Linked DNA regions of Homo sapiens. The protein of the gene in region 2 purifies or fractionates together with the protein of the main gene of each other region. This does not show direct contact. Each region holds a gene or a part of one and is shown on either strand. Other genes may lie near its edges. The genes, in order: LRP1B, TIMP3 and FREM2.

Evidence for each region.
Region 1: the proteins of TIMP3 (region 2) and LRP1B purify together in Homo sapiens (affinity purification with mass spectrometry; one large-scale study listed by BioGRID and IntAct). This does not show direct contact.
Region 3: the proteins of TIMP3 (region 2) and FREM2 purify together in Homo sapiens (affinity purification with mass spectrometry; one large-scale study listed by BioGRID and IntAct). This does not show direct contact.

What each region holds. Positions count from the first base shown.
Region 1 is NC_000002.12:140,349,887-140,353,541, forward strand, and holds part of LRP1B (low-density lipoprotein receptor-related protein 1B precursor), read right to left. Parts: intron 3,187-3,655; coding exon 3,067-3,186; intron 1,153-3,066; coding exon 911-1,152; intron 1-910. UniProt on the Homo sapiens protein: Potential cell surface proteins that bind and internalize ligands in the process of receptor-mediated endocytosis.
Region 2 is NC_000022.11:32,804,564-32,808,218, reverse strand, and holds part of TIMP3 (metalloproteinase inhibitor 3 precursor), read right to left. Parts: intron 1-3,655.
Region 3 is NC_000013.11:38,685,468-38,689,222, reverse strand, and holds the start of FREM2 (FRAS1-related extracellular matrix protein 2 precursor), read right to left. Parts: upstream 2,147-3,755; 5' UTR 1,879-2,146; coding exon 1-1,878. UniProt on the Homo sapiens protein: Extracellular matrix protein required for maintenance of the integrity of the skin epithelium and for maintenance of renal epithelia. Required for epidermal adhesion. Involved in the development of eyelids and the anterior segment of the eyeballs.

The DNA.
Region 1 (3,655 bases), on a different chromosome or scaffold from region 2:
ACCAGCATATTGCCATCTACTGCTGATAAAGTATATTCCAGATTTGCATCAAATGGATTTATGTAGTTCAAGTGTTTATGGTAGATGCTAGTAGAAAAAGTAGTGAGAACTTCTAGATAGGAACCTCTAATTTTTGTTAAACACAAAGCTTCAATTACATCCTGCTGGGACACCACTTGACTTTTTGGTTGTACAGGAATGGGCCAGGCCCTATAAAAACACATATTTATCTGTCATTTTCCTTCCAGGTTACTTAAAAATATAAAACACACAATAACTTGACATGCCCTAAAACAAAAAGGGATAATCTAATCTACAACCATAAATTGAAACATGTTCCAGTTTATTTTTTCTCAAAAACAATAACCATGATAATCAACATGTCCAGCATACACAAGTGCACAATATTTCTGTTTTGGATATTTCCTGAAATATAGTTATCAGGAGTCAGAAGAAATGGTTACACTATTGAGTTGATGTCCTGCCCTACAGTAGAAGTATATTTATGATAATGTAAGAAGAGAAATAGTTATCCCTGCATTACGCTACTTTCTAATGTAAAAATAAAGTGATGTTTCCCAATCTCATCTCATGATAAAAAAGCTTATGTTCATAATAATTGTAAAGCACTATGAAATAGATGTTCTGGAGATGTTATATGTCATTCATTAGCATTCTTATATAATAGTCAAATACATTAAAGCAAAAACATAAAAGCATGCAACTAAAATAAATCATGTACAGCTATGAGAATGAGTAGAGAAATGCATTATTTCTATTTAAGGAGAATATTGGGAGAATAATTGAATATATTACTTAGTATAATTAGATATTATATTAGATAAATTTTGTTTAAAAAGCAGGTGGGGAAAAGGTATGGACTTTCAAATATACAATGGTATTTACTTACAATCAAGCCACTGTTTGCTTGCCTTTTTTCTCTGCCATGGATCCTTTTGTAGAAAATTCCGCCTGGATTAAACTGAGTACTCCAAATAATCATATCTCTTTGATAATATACATCCATCCCTGTTATTCTTGAATTATGTTCAATATGAGAAATTTGTTGATGATCGCCACTGTAGTTGAATGGATATATAAAACCCAGGATATCAGTGTCATTAGCAATGTAGAGAACTTGATCTTCAGAGCCTGGAGATTATTATAATAAAATACAAAAATAAAGTAAATTTCAACTAATGTTAAAAGCAATAATTGTACTTTTAAATTATCTTGAATTATTATTCTTAATACAGTTTTTCCTCAAAAATCAACCAGTTTTATATTGTCTTTTAGTCTTTATGGCTTATTATTTCTGATACTCACTTATCTAAACATTTACAATAATTATTGATAGAGGTTTTTCTACTGCCAATCTTTCCTTATGGCTAGAAATTATGTACATATAAATGTCCTTTTATGAAGAGAGATTATTATTTGATAAGTCACAATACACTAGGTTATAATGCATCAATTGTCAATATCCAAGTACTATGTTGTATACTCATTAAGCTTCAAAAGTTTCTGATTACTTAATTTATGCACCTGAGTGATCATTACTTTAGGCTAAGAAATAAAAATTAAAATATGAAGAATCTTCCTCTTACTGTATTTATACATCTTAAATGCTTACTAACTTTTAACATAAAAAGATATCAGTATTTATTCCATTAAAGTTCTATAATCTCTAAATTATCTAGAATCCTGCTAAGTGTAACATTCTATTCTAAAGTTTTGACACCTACAATAGAGTACTAATGTCATTTTCATACTAACAAGTAAAACCCTAAAGCAAATGCCAAAATTATCAATTAAAATATTAACGAAGCCCTAAAGAGATGTTCGATTGCATACATAGTTTCTGCAAATAAATAATAATAATAATACCTCATGAGGTGCCTTTCAGCTCTGTAATGTTAATAGCTGTCACTTAGCAAATGCTTATTATGTGTCAGACGCTATGTTAAGCCTTTCACAGTTTATCTCCACTTCTTATAACTATGGAAACTGAACTGAGGCTCTGACACTTTAGTGAATTCCTTGAGGCCACACAGTCTAAAAGGTGCTGTGCTGGGATTCAAATCCAAGCATATCAAATGCTATAGCCCACAGTTGATCCATTACATCATCCTGTTTTCTTCTTGTAATAACAATCTTAATAATGTCCAATCATACTTTGTAGCCAACAATATTGAAGTTACAGTATTATTTAGCATAAACACATGAATATTAAAATCTATACCTACAATTGCCCAGAACCCTAGTTTATCATTTAATCTTTTTTTGTTTGTTTGTTTTTCTTTTTTTGAGATGGAGTCTTGCTCTGTCACCCAGGCTGGAGTTCAGTGGCGCAATCCTGGCTCACTGCAACCTCTGCCTCCTGGGTTGAAGCGATTCTCCTGCATCAGCCTCCCAAGTAGCTGGGACTACAGGTGTGTACCACCACGCCTGGCTAATTTTTGTAGTTTTAGTAGAGACGGGGTTTCACCATGTTGGTCAGGTTGTTCTTGAACTCCTGATCTCGTGATCCACTCGCCTTGGCCTCCCAAGGTGCTGGGATTACAGGCATGAGCCACTGCACCAGGCCTATCATTTAATCTTTTTAAAAAATAATATTGGTAAGTGGAGGACTTCTAAATTTGAAAGCAAGATCTTGTTTTAAAACCTTTAAAATCCTTACTCAAAATTCCTTTCTCCTTATAATGCTAATGTTTATTTTTATCCCTGGGGTATAATTTTTCTCATATTCCCTTAGAGCAGACCATCAAGAGAGATACTTCACATTCTATCACACTGGCTTTTAAAATTTTACCCCTTTTGAAAAATTGTTTTGAACACAATGACACAATGTGATTTTAACAGTAACCATATATTTCATAGTCATTTCCATAAACCATCTAAGATTAAATTCATTAATATTAACTAACCAACTGGCCAAATTAATCATCATTAAAAGTATTTTATCAGAAATGAAGCTGTTGCTGGAATGAAATATAAAACATTTTTCTCCATAAAATGTTTACAACAAAATTGTAATAGGATTTGCAATAGTGGTTATAATCTTACCTTCTGCTATGCAGGTGTTATTTCTTTCTTGAAAATTCTGGTCACACACACATTTATATGATCCTTCCACATTTATACATTGATGGGAACATGTGCCAAACACCAAACATTCATTAAGGTCTAGAAAAGAAGAGCTCAAAATAGCATCATCATACCCTCAATTCAGACTCCTATTCTTACCACGTTTCAAAAAAGCCAAAATTATTTTTAACTTATTACTAGCTTTATTGTCCTTTCACATCTTTAATCTGTGACCTGCTGTGTCATATTTTTGAAGGTATAATCATTTTTCACAATATTTGTAGTAGAAGATTTATCAATTGTCATTGCTTTTATTAATCCACTTAAAATATTAAAGCTTCAATTTCAAACTTCCCTGGGGCTTTCTTTTTTCTTTCTTAAAATTTTTACTTATTTATTTTTTTACCTTTTAAGTTCATGGATACAAGTGCAGGTTTGCTACCTAGATAAACTTGTGCCATGGGGGTTTGTTGTATAGATTTCCATTCACGCAAATAGACCTGTCTTGAGGTTTTCTTTTAAGCTGTTTCTGATGACCTACCTCCATGCCTTCGAAGGTATCATGGGC
Region 2 (3,655 bases):
CCTGAGTCCATGTAAGTCCTCAAAGTCAAACAACTTGGTGTAATAAATGGTCCACTGCTTATTCTGAAAGCAAAATAAATACATAAAGCTATCTTCAACCGAATTACTCCAGCATGCAACAAGTCAAGGGTCACAGCTTTCCTGGCATTGCAGCCTTCCTCTCCCTATGAAAATACTCCCATTAACTTGATCTTCGTGGCCCTAATTTTGCTCCCTTTCAAAGAGACAAAAAGAAGGAAAAAAAACACTCAGTAAGTCAATAAAAATTATAAATTGTTTTTCTATTTGAGAGAAGCATGGGAGTCTCTTAAGCACAGGGCTCTAACATTCCTCCATCCCCTCATGTTGCATATATGAAAAGAACTGTGTTAACACAGCCACTGTGGAGGCCAAATTGGCAGGAACTATTAAAATTGAAAATGCATATTATATAATTATAATAATATAAGAGTATGTAGTAGTATATATAATATGATATGGTATAATGTGACCTATAGTATAGTTGTTAAATATATTTTAGAGCCAGGGTGAAGGGGCTTAAATACAGGCTGTATTCCTTGCTAGCAGTATAACCTTAAACGAGTTACCTCATTTTTCTAAGCCTCAGTTTCCTCAGCTGTAAAATGGAGATGACAATAGCACACCTCCCTCATAAAACTGAGAGAATTAAATGAGTTAATGTAAGTTAATGACTTAGAATAATGCCTGGCACATAGTAATCACTCTATACTTATTAGCTGTTTAAAATTATAACCTCATGAAATACATAAAAGAAATATATATATTATATATATAATATATATGTAAATATAATATATATATATTATATATAATATATATTATATATAATATATATTATATATTATATATTTATATATTATATATAAATTATATATTTATATATTATATATTTATATATATATATCCTCCAAACCATCAATCCACAGTAATAAAAGGACTTGGTTTGTCTCACTGTGGCCAGGGAGAAGTAAAGTTAATAGAGACAAGACATTTCAAGGTTCCAAGACTCTTCCCTTAAAGGTGGGGATGAGTTAGGGGTCCCCAGGGGGAGCTACCCAGTCTGCCAATGTGGTGGGAGGAAAGCCAGGGGGGCAGTCAGGAGACTGGGTCCCAGCTGGAGAAGGTGCTCCTCTGACAGTTTTATATATATATTAAGTAGAAAGATCTCTAGTACGCATTGTTGAATGGGAAACAAGCAGAATACTATATGTGGTATTATGTGGTATTCCATGATGTTTAATGTTCTACTATTCATGTTTCTAAGGGAAAAACTACTATAAATTTGCTATGGATACCTATGTATGTAAATGTATAGGAAGAAAAGGATTTGGAGAAGGGACTAGAGTTAGAAAAAGTAATCAGAAAGGATTTTACTCTTCTCCGATTTTAGATAGAGAGATAGATAGATAGATGATAAATGATAAATAGAAATGGATATATCATAGATATACAGAGAGATACATACATGGACATAGAATGTATTCATATACTTGTAGCTTTTAAAATATAGATAAAACAGGCCAAGATGGTACAAATTGTTATTCCCCTTGTATAAATAAGAAAACTAAAGCTCAAAGGTAGCCCATATGTGCCTAGGCACACACAGCCAACAAGCCCCAGAGGAAGGAGTGGAGCTCAGATCTGCCCTCCCCATTGCCTTTCCACCACTCCACCCTGCCTCTCAAGGCCACCCAGGAGTAGACTATGACAAAAGGTAGAAGAAGGGGCCTCCTTGTCCATACTGGCTGGAATGGTAAAAGCCAAGTGCGATGGAGAATCGTGTTGTTGTTTTTGTTTTTAATTAATGAACCTGTTGGAATGTGCCATTCAGCAGTGGAGCTGAATGGTTCCTGCTGTTCATGCAAAACAAACAAAAATCCCTCCACCCAAGCTACTTCTGTGGCCACTTTTCTAGCCTTATCTATCCAGGGACTGTGAAAGGGACACAGAACTGTCAGAGGGGCACCTTCTCCAGCTGGGACCCAGTCTCCTGACTCCCCCTGGCTTTCCTCCTACCACACTGGCAGACCGGGTACCTCCCACTGGGGAGCCCTAACTGATCCCACCTTTAAGGGAAGAGTCTTGAAGCCCTGAAATGTCTTGTCTCTATTAACCTTACTTCTCCTTGGGCCACAGTGAGACAAACCAAGTCCTTTTATTACTGTGGCTTGATGGTTTCAAGGGTCTTTTCCAGATCTAATAGCCAAAGAACATTAGAATTTTCCTCTATGATACACTAGAATAATAATAAGCTCTCCCTCCCTAAAGATGATGTTTAATTAAAACCTCTGGCCATTTTGGCTATCTTCATATTTTTAAAGAAAACCCAGATGTAGAAGAAAAGCATTCTTCAAATGTTAACCATCCATTCCATCTCCTGGTCACCTTAGAATGTCATGTGTCAATGAAAGTTGAAAGGTTTTTGAAGCATGGTATAACTGATAATACGTTTTAGCTTTATCATTTAGCAACTGGGTGGCCTTGGACAAGCACAGTCTCTTCAGCCTCAGTGTTTTCCATCTGAAAAATGGGTGCAATACCTACTCTTAAGGTTGCTGTGGGGGGTCGGGGGAGGGGGTGAAAGAGATGGCATTTGGGAAGTGCGTGCAACCAGGAGGGGCCTAAGACATGTCTCTTCCCTCCTCCAGCTGGATAGCAGCTCTCCTCCTTCCATGGTTCCAAGACATCCACAGCCTGGGTCCCCCAGACTTGCCCTACCAAGTGCTGGCGCCTCTCCAAAGTCTGATTCTTTCTATTTTCCTTAAGTTGCAAAGCCCAGTGTTGAGGTGTAATTGTGTGTAAGAGGGAGAGGGGATGGATCTGGTTTCTTTGAAAATGGCTTCTTTGCTAAAACGACAACCTCAGATCTGATACTGAAAGAATCTGCTGGCACTGGCCCCTGTCAGAACAATTTGGAGCTATCCAGGGGCCATCCTCTGGGGCTGGCAGCCGGCCCCCCAGCTGAGCCTCATGCTCAAATTCCCAACAGGCTCAGAGGCAGGCCCCGAACACACTTCATCCTACAGCCCCATTCCTCCCATGCAAAGGCGGCAAGAGAGAAGGAGAGAAGGGCTTGGCATTCTGAAGCAAAATTCTCTTTCTCTGCTGCAACCCCCCTCAGCCCTGCCAGCCACCTTTGCAGAAGCCACACACGCGCACACACACACACACGCACACACGCACATTTTCAGAAAGCCCTTGGCACAGCCCACCCCTTCCTGAGCTGGACAGAGCTGCCAGGGCAGATTTGCCCGGGCCGAGGCCGCCTTCTTCATCTCCAGCCCCCTCCCATTCCTCTTCTAGAGTCAAGGTTTTGTCAGGAGTTTCAGGGGCAATGACTGGCCAGGGAGGGGGACCACAGACATCCTGCCTGCTGCCAAGTCCCTTTCTTTCCCCCACAGTGTGTCTTATAAGCCGGCATGTAGTTTATTCTTCTCCTAAACACTTCCATAGGGTGCAGGGCCTGGAGTTGCCATAGAAACACCTTTTAACTCCTCCTCCCCCAGAATGCCATGCCAGGCCCTAGGACTTTGGGGAAAAAAGACAAAAAGAGACACCTGTGGATGAGCAGAGACAGGAGGAAAGGCCATCGGGCAGCCCCCCGGAGAGGACCAGGCCAGGCCTCCTGTGCCTT
Region 3 (3,755 bases), on a different chromosome or scaffold from region 2:
TCTGAGAAGTTCCTGCTTCTCATGGGGAGGGTGAGTTTGGCGGAGAAGCAGATGCCCCGTAGTTAAGAAGGGTGACTCCAGCACAAAAAGCAGCAGAGAATCATCTGAATCCATGTCAGTTGCACTCAGGGAAAGGGGCAGGATGGGCACTGTTTCACCCTCTGCCAGTGTCAGCCCCGTGTTGGCATTGAGAACAGGTGGCTGGTCATCCACAGGCACTAAGGTGATGGGGAACAGAAACTGTACCTGGTGCCTGCCTCCTCCATCCACCATGCGAAGCACCAGGTTGTCGCTCAGCGAGCCGTCTCTGTCATCATGCTGGTAGACCACCTGGCCGGCTGCCAGCTCAGCCACTGTAAAGCTCTTGGGAGCAGAGCTGCCACTGGAAGCACCCAGAATGACAAGGTGACCATGCCGGAGCCCAGCCACCACCTCTAGCCGCACTGCTTCTAGGTCATCCTCATCGCTGATGACCAAGTTTTGCGGACCACTGCCTGCAGGGCCTGTGAGGGGCCGAGACTGACCCTCATAGAGAATAAGACCGGTATTCCGGGTGACCACCGGAGCCATTGTGTTCATGGGCTTCACCACTACCATGAAGGCAAAAGGGTCTGAAGCTGCTCCTTCTAGATCCACTACCTCCAATTCCAGTTCAAAGAGGCGCTCCTGGTCAGAGTCTTCAGAAGGGGGCTGGTAGGCAATCTTCAGGAGCCGCAGATCCCTCTGAGTGAAGGAGGAAAGGGGCAGGCTGCGATCATCGGTGCTCACCAAGTAGCCCTGGCCAGGCTGGAATGGAGAAGTAAGGTTGAAGATCAACAGGTCAGAGGGAGACTCAGCATCCTCGGCTGCCAGCATGTCTGGGGTCAGGGCCGTCAGTACAAACTGGTCCACCTCCATCATCATCATGGCCACGAAACTGGGCTTGGGTGCAGTGTTCTCGGCCCCTCCTCGGATCCTCACCAGAACCTGGAAGTGCTCGCGTTTCAAAGCAGGGCTGCCCACAGGAGCCCCTCGTGAACGCAGCTCCACCACCATGGGTATCCAGTCCCTGTTTGGTGAGCGACTGGCGGCTGTGTGGCGATAGCGCACGCCTAGTTCCTGGAAAGCTTTGCAGTCCATCAGGAGAGTCTCCGGGGCGCCTCCCTCTCTGGCTCCTCCAGGGACCTGCGGGTAGTGGAGGAGTTCTCCATAGCGAGGCAGCGCGCCCAAGCCGGACAGGATGCCCACGCGGCACTCCTCTGTCTCGGGCTGGAAGGCGAACTCCAGGCTCCGCGCGTCCAGGGCATTGCTGGTCCCCAGCAGCTCTTCCACGACCAGAGGCAAGTTCCGAGTCACAACCTCCAGCTGGGTGAAGACCACCTCCACCTCCAGTACCAGTGGTAGCACTACTGCCCCTCCGGGCGCGTCATAGCGCAGCTGCAGCCGGACGCGGTCCCGAGACGGGCTGCGCGCGCCCAGGTGAGAGTAGCGCACCTCGCCAGGGCCAAAGTCGCACGGGAAGCGCTTGGGACTCAGGCGGCCCGGTCGCTGGGCCAGTGCGTCGTTGTCTAGTACCGAAACCGCGCAGCGGTCCCCGGGCTGCACCTGCAACACCAGGTCATGCAGGGGATCCAGCCAGACTTCACGGCCGAAAGGCACCCGGAGTCCGCGGTTCGCCAGCACTATGGCCTCCTCAGCAGGGACCCCTGCAGCCCCCGCGAGACCAGGGGACAGCAACGCCCTGCCGAAGGCAGCGGGCTGTGCCGGGACGCGGCTTACCAGTGACAGGAGAAGCAGCAGCAGCAGCAGCAGCCGGGGCGGCGGTGGCGGTCCTGGTTGAAAGCTGGTGGAGTTGCCTGTCCGGCGCGAGGATAACCCGGGAGTCCCGGCTGAGTGCATGGTCCCGGTGTTCGGGCTTGGACAGGTCAGCCTGAGAGCATGCGAAGTCGGTCCCCGGGCAGACAACAAGAGACACCGCCGGGAAGTGCCAGGAACTCCGCGCGTTGCCCGCGGGGTCCTCCTGTAGCCGGGGCTGGGCCAGAAGGATGGCAAAGTTGCGCGGCGCCGTCCGGGCTGGAGCCGCAGCCGAGGAGCCGAAGCCTTCCCAGGCCGTCCAGCTCCGCCGCTAGCGCCTCAATCGCGCGGAGAATTGAATCCCTCCACTTCTACTTTCCAGGTCCCCGGACCCTGGGCTTTGAGGGAAATCCCTCCGCTCGCACCCCTTACTCCAGTCCTCCCAGGTGGCCAATCGTTGGTCGGGGGAGGAGGTGCGGAGCTGAGGGTTGGGTAGTAATTTCTGCCAATCAGCTCTTAGAGGCCAAGGCGGGGAAACTGCGGGGAGGGGAGGAGATAGAGGCGCAACAGGTTGTCCTGGAAGTGAGGGAAGAAGTGGCCAGGAGTTGCCCACCCCTGCTTGCGCTACTCTCTGGGCTGCTATTAATAGATCTGGTACTCCTGCAGAGGAGCCGGAACACACTGCTGTGCTGGGTTCACTTCATCTGCCGGCGACCGAGGGTTACCCATTTTAGCCACCCCCACCCCTCCGCCCTAGTCAATGAAATCCCGCGCAGGGCATGGCCATTTCCCAAGGAAACTTGCAAACCCAGGGGAAAGTTAGACGCAATGCTTTTTGAGTTTGAAGCGAAACCCAGAGCGTTTGAGAAGAAATTCTGGGGCATATTTGCAAAAGGACAGCTGGAATTAAAAGCCATAGCTAGAGCAGGTTGCACTCCAGCCCAGCCCCCTTCGGCGCGCCCAGACGCTGCCTTCTCCTCGTGAATTACAATGGGCACAGTCCTCCGATTGGTGAGTTTTTAACAAGCCCCTCCTTTGCAACCGAGGTTCACAGAGTAAAAGGGAAAAAGGGCATTTGGAATGCGTGAGAAATGCAGTCTGATCAGAATTGCTAGTCTTGCACCAAAGAATAAATTCTAGGGAATGTGGCCCCAGGCGCTCCCAAATCCGACTCTGTTAGGGTAGCTGTCATTAGAGACGTTCCTGTTCTCTTCGCAGTAATTAGACCAAGCACAAACTAAATCTACTTGTCAGCATCACATTTCTTTGCATGCCACGAAAATTGATAAATATCCGGAGGGCACACTAAAATAGTTTAGCTCTCATTTCAGCCAACAGGTTTTGAAGTCAGAGCTTGAGCTCTTCCTGCCCCCTTGTGTTTGTTTGGTTTTAGTAGTGTGTAGATTCCCTTTCTAAAAGGTTTTTTTATCAACTCTCCTCCCCCCCTCAAAAAAGATCCCTTGTAATTTAAACTTAATCATTTTCGGATTGGCTCCTAAGCAATCATAGTCAGAATGTTTTATTTAGGATAATATTTTTTTTCTCCAGTAATGCAAATCTGATTGCTAACAGGAGCATAGAATTGGAGTAATAGTCATAATTAGCCATAATTGCCCTTTTCCTGCTCCAAGGGATTTTGAATTTGGAAAAGAGGGAAATATAAGAAATTGTTAATGTCTTTTTACATTTCAGTCTAAATTGAAGCTAGAAGGTGCCTATGGGAGTAATTTCAGTAAGAAGTGCCTATCCTTTTAAGCCTTTGTGTTTTCAGCTTGAGCTCCTCCAGACCAGGATTTTGATCCTTGCTTGACACAGTTACAGCTATTTTCCAGGCTGCAGCACAAACTCTGTACATAAGTATGGCTGGGAGATGCCAGATTCCTTTCCATGAAACCTACTGAGTGGTGTCCGTTTCCAGGAATCATAGACAGGAAGTTCTAAAATCTTTCAAAAAGAAGCAAGAGATCAATTTAAAGGAGTCA